2 separate regions of the Homo sapiens genome follow, and region 2 is linked to region 1. Evidence: fine-mapped expression QTL. A gene starts in region 1. The other region holds a variant in brackets. All regions are shown on one strand. Distances are between the middles of the regions.

The links.
Region 2: its variant is fine-mapped to the expression of GLYCTK in atrial appendage (GTEx, PIP above 0.99).

The regions. Positions count from the first base shown.
Region 1 is chr3:52,284,811-52,290,180 of GRCh38, forward strand. It overlaps GLYCTK (glycerate kinase), which reads left to right and starts at 3,018. Exons shown (of 5, transcript NM_145262.4): 1 at 3,018-3,066. GLYCTK-AS1 (GLYCTK antisense RNA 1) reads right to left here and starts at 4,923. Exons shown (of 1, transcript NR_046719.1): 1 at 3,770-4,923. LOC107986086 (a long non-coding RNA gene) reads right to left here and starts at 3,210. Exons shown (of 3, transcript XR_001740699.2): 1 at 3,023-3,210. RefSeq lists enhancers at 2,603-3,344, 2,650-3,849, 2,676-2,785.
Region 2 is chr3:51,774,516-51,779,885 of GRCh38, forward strand. It overlaps IQCF6 (IQ motif containing F6), which reads right to left and starts at 4,722. Exons shown (of 2, transcript NM_001368369.1): 1 at 4,638-4,722; 2 at 4,048-4,476. The coding sequence starts at 4,709. The coding sequence ends at 4,108. The region is part of intron 2 of LOC105377087 (a long non-coding RNA gene); the gene reads left to right. The variant T/G (reference allele first, on the strand shown) is at 3,281.

The sequences.
Region 1 (5,370 bases):
CACACCTGTAATCCCAGCACTTTGGGAGACAGAGGCAGGAAGATGGTTTGAGCGCAGAAGTTTGAGACCAGCCTGGCCAACATGGCAAAACCACTTCTCTACAAAAAATACAAAAAATTAGCTGGGTGTGGTGGTGCACGTCTGTGGTCCCAGCTACTTGGGAGACTGAAGTGGGAGGATCACTTGAGCCTCGGAGGTGGAGGTTGCAATAATCCAAGATGATGGCACTGAACTCCAACCTGGGTGACAGAGTGAGATCCTGTCTCAAATAAAAATATATGTATATATAAGAAAAAGAAAAATCCAGGGAGAGAGCTGGAAGTGGGGGCCAGAGGAAGGGAAAGGTTCATGACAAGAGCACAGCATGGTTTGGAGACCTAAGGAGAGATGTAGCAACTGCCAAAGGGAGCAGGTAGGGGGTGTGAAAAGAAAATAAAATTTTAGGACATTCCCAATTTATAATGTGAAGGAGAAAAGTGAAGCCCTGGAAACTGAGCAGGCATTGCTTTTTTTTTTTCTTCTCTGATGCATGACTGCTGCTTCCTGATCTTTGTATTGAAATGTTATACATTAACCAGGCTCCCTATTCTTCATTCAGACTTAGACTAGATGATGTGGGAGATAGAGACCCTTGTGATTGTTGTCTCTTTACAATAGAATGTTAAGCAAACTCCTTCCAGTATAATCAATAGTAGCCAACCAAATCTTGTATTTATGTTAGCCTTTTTTTGGAAAATGTTGTAATTCTGGTCAGCACTCCTGTTTTTGCCTATATAAACAATCTTTTTTTTTTTTTTTTTTGAGACGGAGTCTCGCTTTGTCACCCAGGCTGGAGGGCAGTCACGCAATCTCGGTTCACTGCAACCTCCCAGGTTCAAGCAATCCTCCTGCCTCAGCCCCACCAGTAGCTGGGATTACAGGCACACACCACCATGCCTAGCTAATTTTTGTATTTTTAGTAGAGACGGGGTTTCGCCATGTTGGCCAGGCTGGTCTTGAACTCCTGACCTCAGGTGATCCACCTGCCTCAGCCTCCCAAAGTGCTAGGATTACAGGTGTGAGCCACTGTGCCCGGCCCATGCCCAGCTAATTTTTGTATTTTTTAGTAGAGATGGGGTTTCACCATATTGGTTAGGCCAGTCTCGAACTCCTGACCTCAAATGATCCCACCTGCCTCAGCCTCCCAAAGTACTGGGATTGCAGGCATGAGCCACTGCACCTGTCCCAAAAACACATTTCTAATGTCAACCTAAAAATCATCAAAAGGTTCGATATCCAGTTAAAAGAATTTATTCAAGCATAAAGTGTGAGGGCAGCCATCCAGGGAAACACAGACACCAAGCAGTGGCAATTAGTGTTCTCCAGCATGGGGAAAGATGAAGGTTGTTTATATAGGCCGGGCGCCTGTAATTGTTTATACGCCTGTAATCCCTGCACTTTGGGAGGCCAAGGGCGGTGGATCACAAGGTCAGGAGTTCGAGACCAGCCTGGCCAACATGGTGAAACTCTGTCTCTACTAAAAATACAAAAATTAGCTGGACGTGGTGGCGGGCGCCTGTAGTCCCAGCTATTCGGGAGGCTGAGGCAGGAGAATTGCTTGAACCTGGGAGGCGGAGGTTGCAGTGAGCCGACATCGTGCCCAGGCTGCAGTGCAGTGGCCGTGAGCTGAGACTGTGCCATTGCAGTCCAGCCTGGGTGACAGAGCAAGACTCCACCTCAAAACCAAGAGAAAGAAATGTGTTTTTGTTTGTTGGTTTTTTTTTGAGACAGGGGCCCAGGTTGGAGTGCAGTGGCGTGATCAAGGTTCACTGCAGCCTCTACCTCCCAGGCTCAGGTGATCCTCCCATCTCAGCCTCCTGAGTAGCTGGGACTACAGGAGCATGCCACCACACCTGGCTCTTTTTTTTTTGGTAGAGATAAGTTTCGCCATGTTCCCAGGCTGGTCTCGCATTCCTAGGCTCAAGCGATCCGCCCACCTTGGCCTCCCCAATGTTGGGATTACAGGCGTGAAACACTGCGCCCTGCCAAGAAACATGTTTCAATAAAATTGTTAGGAAATCAAGTGTGTGATTTGTGATGCAACTCTCTCCTCTATCTCCCTAAGAAAACATCAGTAAAAACAGTGAACTGTTTTGTATTTTTGGAGTCTGATCAGGACTCATCTTATGAATGTGGGAAGGCATCCAGCCAACACAGGGTAGGCCCCGGATGAGAGTAGGGACAGCGAGGTAGGCCCAGAGTCATTAGCGTTTACATGCCGCTTATGTGCTTGAGGATCGCAGAATGGAACTCTTGCTAAGCCAGAGCTGTATTTGGTGGCCCATGGTGGGAGAGGGAAGAACAATAATAAGTTGTGGAATAAAAGCCATGGAGAGGAGCGGGAATTACTTAATCTGGCTCCAGAAGGGGTGAGTTGTGGGGAAGTAGTGATTCTCAGTTCGTTTGCTCAGCCCAGTCAGTGCCTGACACTCAGGGTGCATCTGCTGACTGACCGTACAGGATAAAGGAAGGGAGAGGCCGGGTGCGGCGGCTGAAGTCTGTAATCCCATCACTTTCGGAGGCTGAGGTGGGTGGATCGCTTGAGGTTAGGCGTTCGAGACCAGCCTGGGCAACATGGCGAAAGCCCGTCTCTACTAAAAAATACAAAAATTAGCCCGGAGTGGTGGCACATGCCTGTAATCCCAGCTACTCGGGAGGCTGAGGCATGAGAATCGCTTGAATCCGGGAGGCGGAGGTTGCATTGGGCCGAAACCGCGACTCTGCACTCCAGTCTGGGCGACAGAATGAGACCCCGTCTCAAAAAAAAAATCGGCAATCGGTGAGGCGGGGATTATTACCCTCAATGTAGAGATTTAAAAAATGAGGACTGAAGGTGACTCCTTCCAGGTCTGTCAGTGGCCAGCAAAGAGCCAATATGCTAAACTCTCCCCTCCCGGACACCGGCTTCAGCCAGAGCTCGCACCCGCCTGCGCCGCTCCACCCACCCACACTTCCGGCTTCCGCTCCGCCCACCCCCTAGTACTTCCGTTCTCCAGCGCTGGGCACCGCGGCCGGAGCTGTGGGCTGGTAAGTCTGCGCCGCCAGGGCTCGCATGGCCTTCAGAAGCGGTCCCTGGGCTGGGCGATGACGGGTCCTGGTGGCAGCAGGCCCTTCTTTCTCGCATCACCGGGCATTACGCGGCAGCCATTTCCCTCGCTAAGGCCCTACCTTAGGATGACGTCACTTCCGGCCCCCTACTGTCTAGGGAAAGCCGGAAATGGTACCAGCCTTCTTTGATGGCGGGGAGGAGTCAAGACCGGTAGTCTTCCTATTTCCGTTGTTTTGCTCTGGAGCCTCCCGGAGTTTCGGAGAGACCGTGTCTTGGATAGAATTGGAGGACTTAGCAAATAAAAATGCAAAGCGTCCAGTTACATTTTTTTTGAGTTAGAATCTCACTCTGTCACCCAGGCTGGAGTGCAGTGGCGCGATCTCGGCTCACTGCAACCTCCGCCTCCCCTGTTCAAATGATTCTCATGCCTCAGTCTCCCGAGTAGCTGGGATTACGGGCGCCCACCACACCCGGCTAATTTTTGTATTTTTAGAAGAGACGGGGTTTCACCACGTTGGTCAGGCTGGTCTCGAACTCCTGACCTCAGGTGATGCGCCCGCCTCAGCCTTCCAAAGTGCTGGGATTACAGGCGTGAGCCACTGCGCCGGGCCACGTCCAGTTAAATTTGAGTTAAGATAAACGACGAATAATTGTTAAGTCCTAAACATTGTATGCACATACTTATACTTTAAAAATTACTTGTTTATTTGAAATTCAAATTTAACCGGAAGTCCTGTATTTTCTCTGGCAGCCTTAGCATTGAGCGTCCCCCTGTCCTGTGCTCATACCCAGTGGCAAGGCTGGGATCTTCTAGGCTCTTGTCCATCTGGGAAATAGATACAAATTTCATCCAGGCTATAAAGACCGGCTGTCTTAGTTGCTAAGATGCTTTTAGCTCCAAGTCCAATGGGCAAGCTCCAGGGGTCCCCCTGGCCAAAACTGGACCCATTTTCGGAATCCCCATGACGATGCCCTCTGTGTTCCCTTTCACAACAGAAGTCAGGCATGGCTGTCTTTTCTTACCGGAGAGCTGAGAACTAGGCAAGCAAAATGGTCAAAGTCTAGAAGTAACCACCATATTTGGGTGTGGGGTAAACCGGTGTTTGAGATCTGTGTTGCAGTGGACAGTATCAGAGAGCCTGAGGTTGTTAAGGGAAGAGCGTAGTGTTAATCTCACCCCATGTCTCATTTTGCGGATGAGGCCCAGTGAGAGAAATGGAGGTGTCCCAGCCACTCAGAAAGCCTATAGTAGAGCTGGAACCTCAATTCCCAGCCTCCTTACCCTGCTCAGTCCATACTTGCTGATGAAGTCAGCTTGCAACATTTATGGTAGGCATTTATTAAAGTAGATGCAATAGTACATATGTAGTACAGATGAGCTGTTTGGGTCTTTGTTGTTCCTATACCCCTCTACAGCTTCCTGACCTTCGCCCCAAGGCTTCTTTAGCTTTTACTCTGCCCAGTGGGGAAAATGGCTATGGGCTCAGTTATGGGAGCCTGGCCTTTGCCTACTTCAGCCCTTGGGCTCTCACCACTGTGGGTGGTGTGACCTAGGACTTGTTTTTGTTATCTTGGAACCAGAAGGCGTGTTCTTGGCAGGGTTGGGTCTGGCCAACTGTGTGGGTAGAAGGGCATCCTTTTCTGTCCTGCAATTGGGCTTCATGGCACATGGCCTCACATGGTGCCTGGGGACTTTTCTAAGGTTCCACCATGAGCCAGACTTTGCCCTCACTCCTGATTTGAACCTAAACCTCTTGCTGAACTGGTCCTGCATACTGAGATTCCTCAGATTGCTTGCCCTGAGGATGTGTTCTGGGTTTGACCTGATAAACCTGCAGCCTCCTATAGACCCTGACTTCCCAGGCTCCTAATCCCAGTCTCATGAGATAATGAAATAGAGAAGACTGGAGGTCAATGGGCTCAGGGTCAGTTGGTGGGACAATCAACAGCTTCCTGGCAGCAGAGGTGGTAAAGAGGCAAGGAAGGAGTGCCAGAAAGGGGCGTTGCCCCAGGGTAACAGCGCAGAAGTGCAGGGGGTGGAAAAGGGGTGGGATGGGAGCCCACTGGTAGAAATTACTCCCTCTGTCAATGATTAACTCCCAGCCAAAGGGGTGACCTGGGAGGAGGGCCCAGCTAATAGGAACTTTGGACTTGAGGCAGAGTATCCAGAGGGCCGGCATGTGGTCTGCAGAAGAGGAGGACGTGGCTGGGTGGCAGGGCTGGTCTCCAAGGACGAGTAAGATCCTGCAGCTGCAGGCTTCAGGAAGTCTCCTGGGGCTATC
Region 2 (5,370 bases), 510 kb before region 1:
CATATTTTATATATACATATATGTGTGTGTGTGTGTGTGTGTGTGTGTATATATATATATATATATATATATATATATAGAGAGAGAGAGAGAGAGAGAGAGAGAGAGAGAGAGAGAGAGATACTAGAGACAGGGTCTCACAATGCTGCCCAGGCTGGTCTTGAACCCCTGGCCTCAAGCAATCCTCCCACCTTGGCCTCCCAAAGTCCTGGGATTACAGGCGTGAGCCACTGCTCCCAACCCTGGGTTGATTCTTGCAACCGGTTCTGCTGCTGTTATGGGTGACATGTTGTTTATCCTCAATCCACCTCTGAGAAATGGACCTCTCTGTGCTCCACCCCTTGACCTAAACTCACCTTCTGCAATGCCCATGGTCCCTGCCTTGGCCTCAGGTGGCAAGGTCTTTATAGTCTGTGGCTTCTTGTCTCTATCTCAGGCCTCTTTGGGACCACCAGTCCTCTTGGCACTTCTTGCCTCCCCCATCTGGGGATCCCAGGGATCTTGGCTACTTACGTGCTCCATAGGGAAGTGTACAGGACTCAGTGGGAGCTGTCCCCAGACCCATCACTTAGGCATCTCCCTTGGCTTCTGCTTCCTTTCATCTCTGAGCTATGCAGTCTCCCCAGGTTATATTCTCAGATCTCCCTTTGCCTATTGGGGTGACACAAGGGAAAGAGGTGGAGGGCAGGGGCAGGCAGCAGGCTGCAGCAGTACCTCAGCCTCCTCACACTCTTTCTCAGGGTCATGCATGGGCTTTTCTTTTGTCTCTTCTTGTGTAGCTGGAAATTTCTCTGCCCTCTACCCCAACCCCCACCTCCTGCCACCCTCTGCACACGGAGGCTTACCAATAGGCTGCTAACACCTCCCGGTTTTCCCAGGACAGTCATGGTTTGCACTTGGTATTTCCAATGTATTTATCAAGATTGCACCTTTCACTCTCAAAATCTATGGTCACCTTTTTAAAGGTAAAACTCTATGCAAAGCTATTTGTTGACACTTGATATGAAAGCACAGCTTTGAGAGTGCCCAGGAAACATTTTTTCTTTCAACCCACTGTAGCTCTTCTACATAAGTGCCTGCTTCCACTAACTTGTGGACTTGAGCAAACTCAATTTTTTGAAACAAAGCTGATCGACTTTTTCACACTAAGCATTTCCACCCTGGCAGGGTGGGGATGGAGTAGGGTGGTGCCCTCCTGTAACATGGGTGTATGTGTGGTCAGCGGGATGCTGGTCAGTCCACTCAAACTGCCTGGCATGGCATGGCGGTGGCTGTGGTCATCTCATTTTGGATTTAGCACGTGGGACACAAAGAAGCAAAAGACAAGGCTCTGGAGACCCTGGGGCTGTGTGGTCAGAGCTGAGGTTGGTGATGTATCAGGTGGGAGGCTTGAAAGCATAGGGTGGGCACCCTGGGGACAAAGAGATGAGATGCCATCTGGGAATCCTTTCCCATTGGTGGAAGAGAACTGCAGGGGATGGGCCCTCACTTACTGAGCTACCTTCTTAGGGCCTCAGCAGGCTGGGCCAGTGTGAGGGCCAATGCAATTCTTTATTTATGGGAGGGCTGTGGGCACATATCTCTTGGGGACACCATGTCATCTGAGGGAGGAGCAAGATTGAGGATACTCGGTCCCCCTAGAGTGCTCTGAGATCTACTCCCATCCCAAAGCCACAAGCACAGCCTCCCCTTCTACACTTCAGTGTTTCAGCATATGATACGTGTTCTCAGAAAGAGTTCCTCCTGCAGCTCAATCCTCAGCAATAGTAAGGAGTGACAGGAAGGGCCTCTGAGGTCTGCCTCTGAGAGTCCCACCAGCAGCCTTACCCCTACTGAGGAGGGGAGAGTGGCTCCAGTGATCTAGGCCAACACTGGCCACAGACCTCACTGTTAAAGAGGAGTCTTTCTCCTGACTCCCATCCCATGCCTCACTCACCTCCTCTTCCTTGGGGCTCTCCAATGCCCACTGCCCACAGGTCCCGACCATCCCTAGCTTCTTAAGGCCCCTGACCACCAGCAGGACACCCAAAGTGGAGTGGTGGTGAAGGCTTTGGATGAAGCTTGGCTTTCTTGGGCTAGCCCTTGAGTCTCATTGCTCACAGTTGGGTGGTGCCATCTTCTTGAGATCCTGTCTATCTGGGACAAGAGGTCTCACTCATGTTCCCCTCAAAAGCCCCTCCCATTCAGCCCCCAGCTACCAAGCTGTGTCTTCCTGTTTCCAAAAGTTTTTGACCCAAAGTGGTGCTCCCACTGGATTCCTATTTCACTTGGCATTGTTAGCATATCAGAGAGCAGGAAGCCTTGATGACCTGTCTCCTGTGTTCAGCATGAAATTCTGTAGAGCATCCTCAAGTGGGACTACATGGGCCAGCTGAGAAGGGCTTAACTCAGCAGTTCCCAAACCAAGACTGCACTTTGGAATCCTGATGCCAGGCCTCATACCCGTCCAGTTAAAGCAGAATCCCTGGGTGGATCCAGGTATCATTATTTTTTTTAGTGTCCTAGGGGATTGCAATGTCCTATGTTGAAAATATATAACTCAGAGACTTAAACCATTGCCAATCCAGGTTTTAAACACCTCTCACTCTTGGGGTAGCACCTAAGGGGTTAGTCATGCAGAGTTCCTATTATGCCCAGCTGCAGACCTATCTAGTTTCATACCACTTGCTGCTGTGAGTAGGAGGTGGGCAGAGCTGTATCCAGCACCACTGAATGGGTTCCCTTGGAAGAGCGGGATTCAGTCAGAAAGTCCAGGTACCCAGTTGCTTCACTGCCACCTGCAGCTACTGCAGATGATGGGTGTCAGGCTGAACCCTGAGCCCTCACATCTGCTACAGCTGTTCTGGAGACTCACCCCCAACACACACACACACACACACACACACACACACACACACACGGATTAGGGAAAGTGTCACCCAGCTGCAAGGCATGAAGACCCCTGCACACCTCCCTTCCCACCGCTCCTGCAGGGCCCACCATGGAAAAACCCTGCGGAGGGTTGCAGACCTCAGACTTCTGGGATGGAGGTTCACACAAACATCTGAGGGACACAAGCTGAGAGTGAGGGGCCTTGGGCATGGATGACAAACCAGAGACAGTGAGAGACCACATGAGAGATGGTTGCGCCATAGGTGCCCAGAGACAGAGAGAGACTTAGCAAAGCAGTAGCCCAGCAGCACCCACCCAAGGCAGGCCCAGCAGACGGTGAGGCATCCTGGGGGGAGGCCAGAGAGGGGACATGGGGGTGGAGGAGGAGCACAGCTGCTTCTGAGGACAT[T/G]ATAGGATTTAGAGGCTGTGTGCCCAATGACCTCCAGTGGCAGAGGGACAACCCTTTCCCCTGCCTATCCCTAGTCCTCTGTTTGTTTACCTGCCCCCATGCCACCCCCACAACCATCCCCCCACAGCCCCCAAGTCTCTCTCCCCTCCCTGATCCCATGCCTGGTTCTCCAAGGAAGTGCCCAGCAGAGGGGAGGGAAGCCTTGTTGTTCAGCCCCAGGGTGGGCAGGCGGCAGGCACAGCTGCTGCCCTCAGCTCCTGCTCTGGCTTCCCCAGGGGCTGGCTCTGGCTGGCTGCTCCCTGACTCCCTTCCCCACCATAAGGCACAGCGTCTGTCCTGCTGTTGCCCAGCTGAAGTGCCATGTCCTCCTGGCTCCCTGCCAAGCACTCTGCCGGCCCTGAGGGCCTTGCCAAGCACAGGCCTGTGGAATCCTGGCCTTCCCAGCTGGCCCTGGCTGCAGCCAGATTCTCTGATCTTCTGATCTGAATGGAGATGCCTGGACAGGGGCTGCAGGAAACTAAAGCCCAATGCCTACTCCCACTGTGGAAGGGGCCAAAATCAGGCTGACTGAGGCATCATTGCTTGACCTGGGCCCTGGGGTCTCTCTTGGATGCAAGACTGTCCCGGTATGCTGTTAGGAACAGGGGCCTAGGTTGGTGACCTGAGGACAGGGGCTCTAGACCACACCAGGGAATCTTTCTGGGGGGAAGGCAGAAAACTTAGAGGCTGAACCCTCCTCCATGAGTCTAATCTCCAAAGGGCAAGTGTATGGTCAGTAAGGGTCTTTATTGGAAGAGAGATCCAGCCTCCTTGGCTCTGTCAGCGCCCTAGGTCATGAGGATTTCGATGTCAAGCTCCAGCCGGCTGGCTCTGACCTCATAGTGGCCCCGGATCAGGCCTCGGGTTTGGCTGGCATGCCAGCGCCAGTGAGACTGGATGATGCAGGCCGCTTGGCGTGCCTGGAGGAACCGCCTGCGGGCCTGCCACATTCGAACCTGTGCCTGCACCTTCACCACCGCCCACTCCTGGCAGGTATAGAGTCTTAGTGCCAGGCGCCGTCTTTGCTCCAACATCTTGGCCTGCATTGACCTCCACCAGCACTGGATGACCCAGGCTCTGAGTGCTGCCTGCAGTAACGTCCGGCGCACCATGTTTCCACGCCACCATGACTGAATCTTTATGGCTGTCTTCTCTAACTGATTGGGGGAAAGGAAAAACAGGGAGATGCTCAATGGGGGACCCTCCCCTCCTGTTCCTATCCCCATCTCTGATCTTGGGAGGAAAGAAGGCCTGGCCCAGGTGCCCCTGACTTCTTGTTTCTAGGGCCCATCCATCTTGTTTCCAATCCCCCACTCACATTTAGACACGGTTCATTACCTGTCAGGTAAGTCCCTACTGCAAGGGCCTTACTCACATTTTGCGTGTCCATGGCCTTGATCCTTAGGGTCCACTTATCTGTCACTTAGGCCACCCTTGTCTTTAGCCCCACCCTCAACTGTTAGTCACACCTCCATCATTGGACTCCGCCCACTTGCACACAAGACTCTACCTCATCAGGTCCCGTCTGCACGCATTTTAACCACATTTCTCTCTCCTCTTCTCTTGCTTTCATCTCTTTTGCTTTATTGATTCCCACCACTTTGGGAGCCTACCATTATCTCTTGCCTTCAGTTTATTTCTCAGCCCCAGTGGCATTCCTGATCCTCCTGATGGCAGTGAAGAGAGAGTCATGCAGCTTACCTACAAGGAAGGAGTTTTACTTTAAGCCTCTACTCATAGCCAATTTGGATTTCCTGAAGCTTAAGTGTCAGGGCGCCTGTCAGGGCCCGAGGAACGTGTTTACAGAGCTGTATATTTTTGGGTAAAATTTGTGAAAGCAAGATATTTCAGCTGCAATTGGAGAGGACCTCTGTCTCTCTTCCCTCTTACTCCCTCTGTCACTCACCTCCTGTTGAGTGGGGTGGAATGGCAACCTCTTTTGCCACGAGACTAAGGGAAGGCTGAGTTGGGATAGACTCAGTTTTTTTTTTTCTTTTTTTTTTTGAGACAGAGTCTCGCTCTGTCGCCCAGGCTGGAGTGTAGTGGCACAA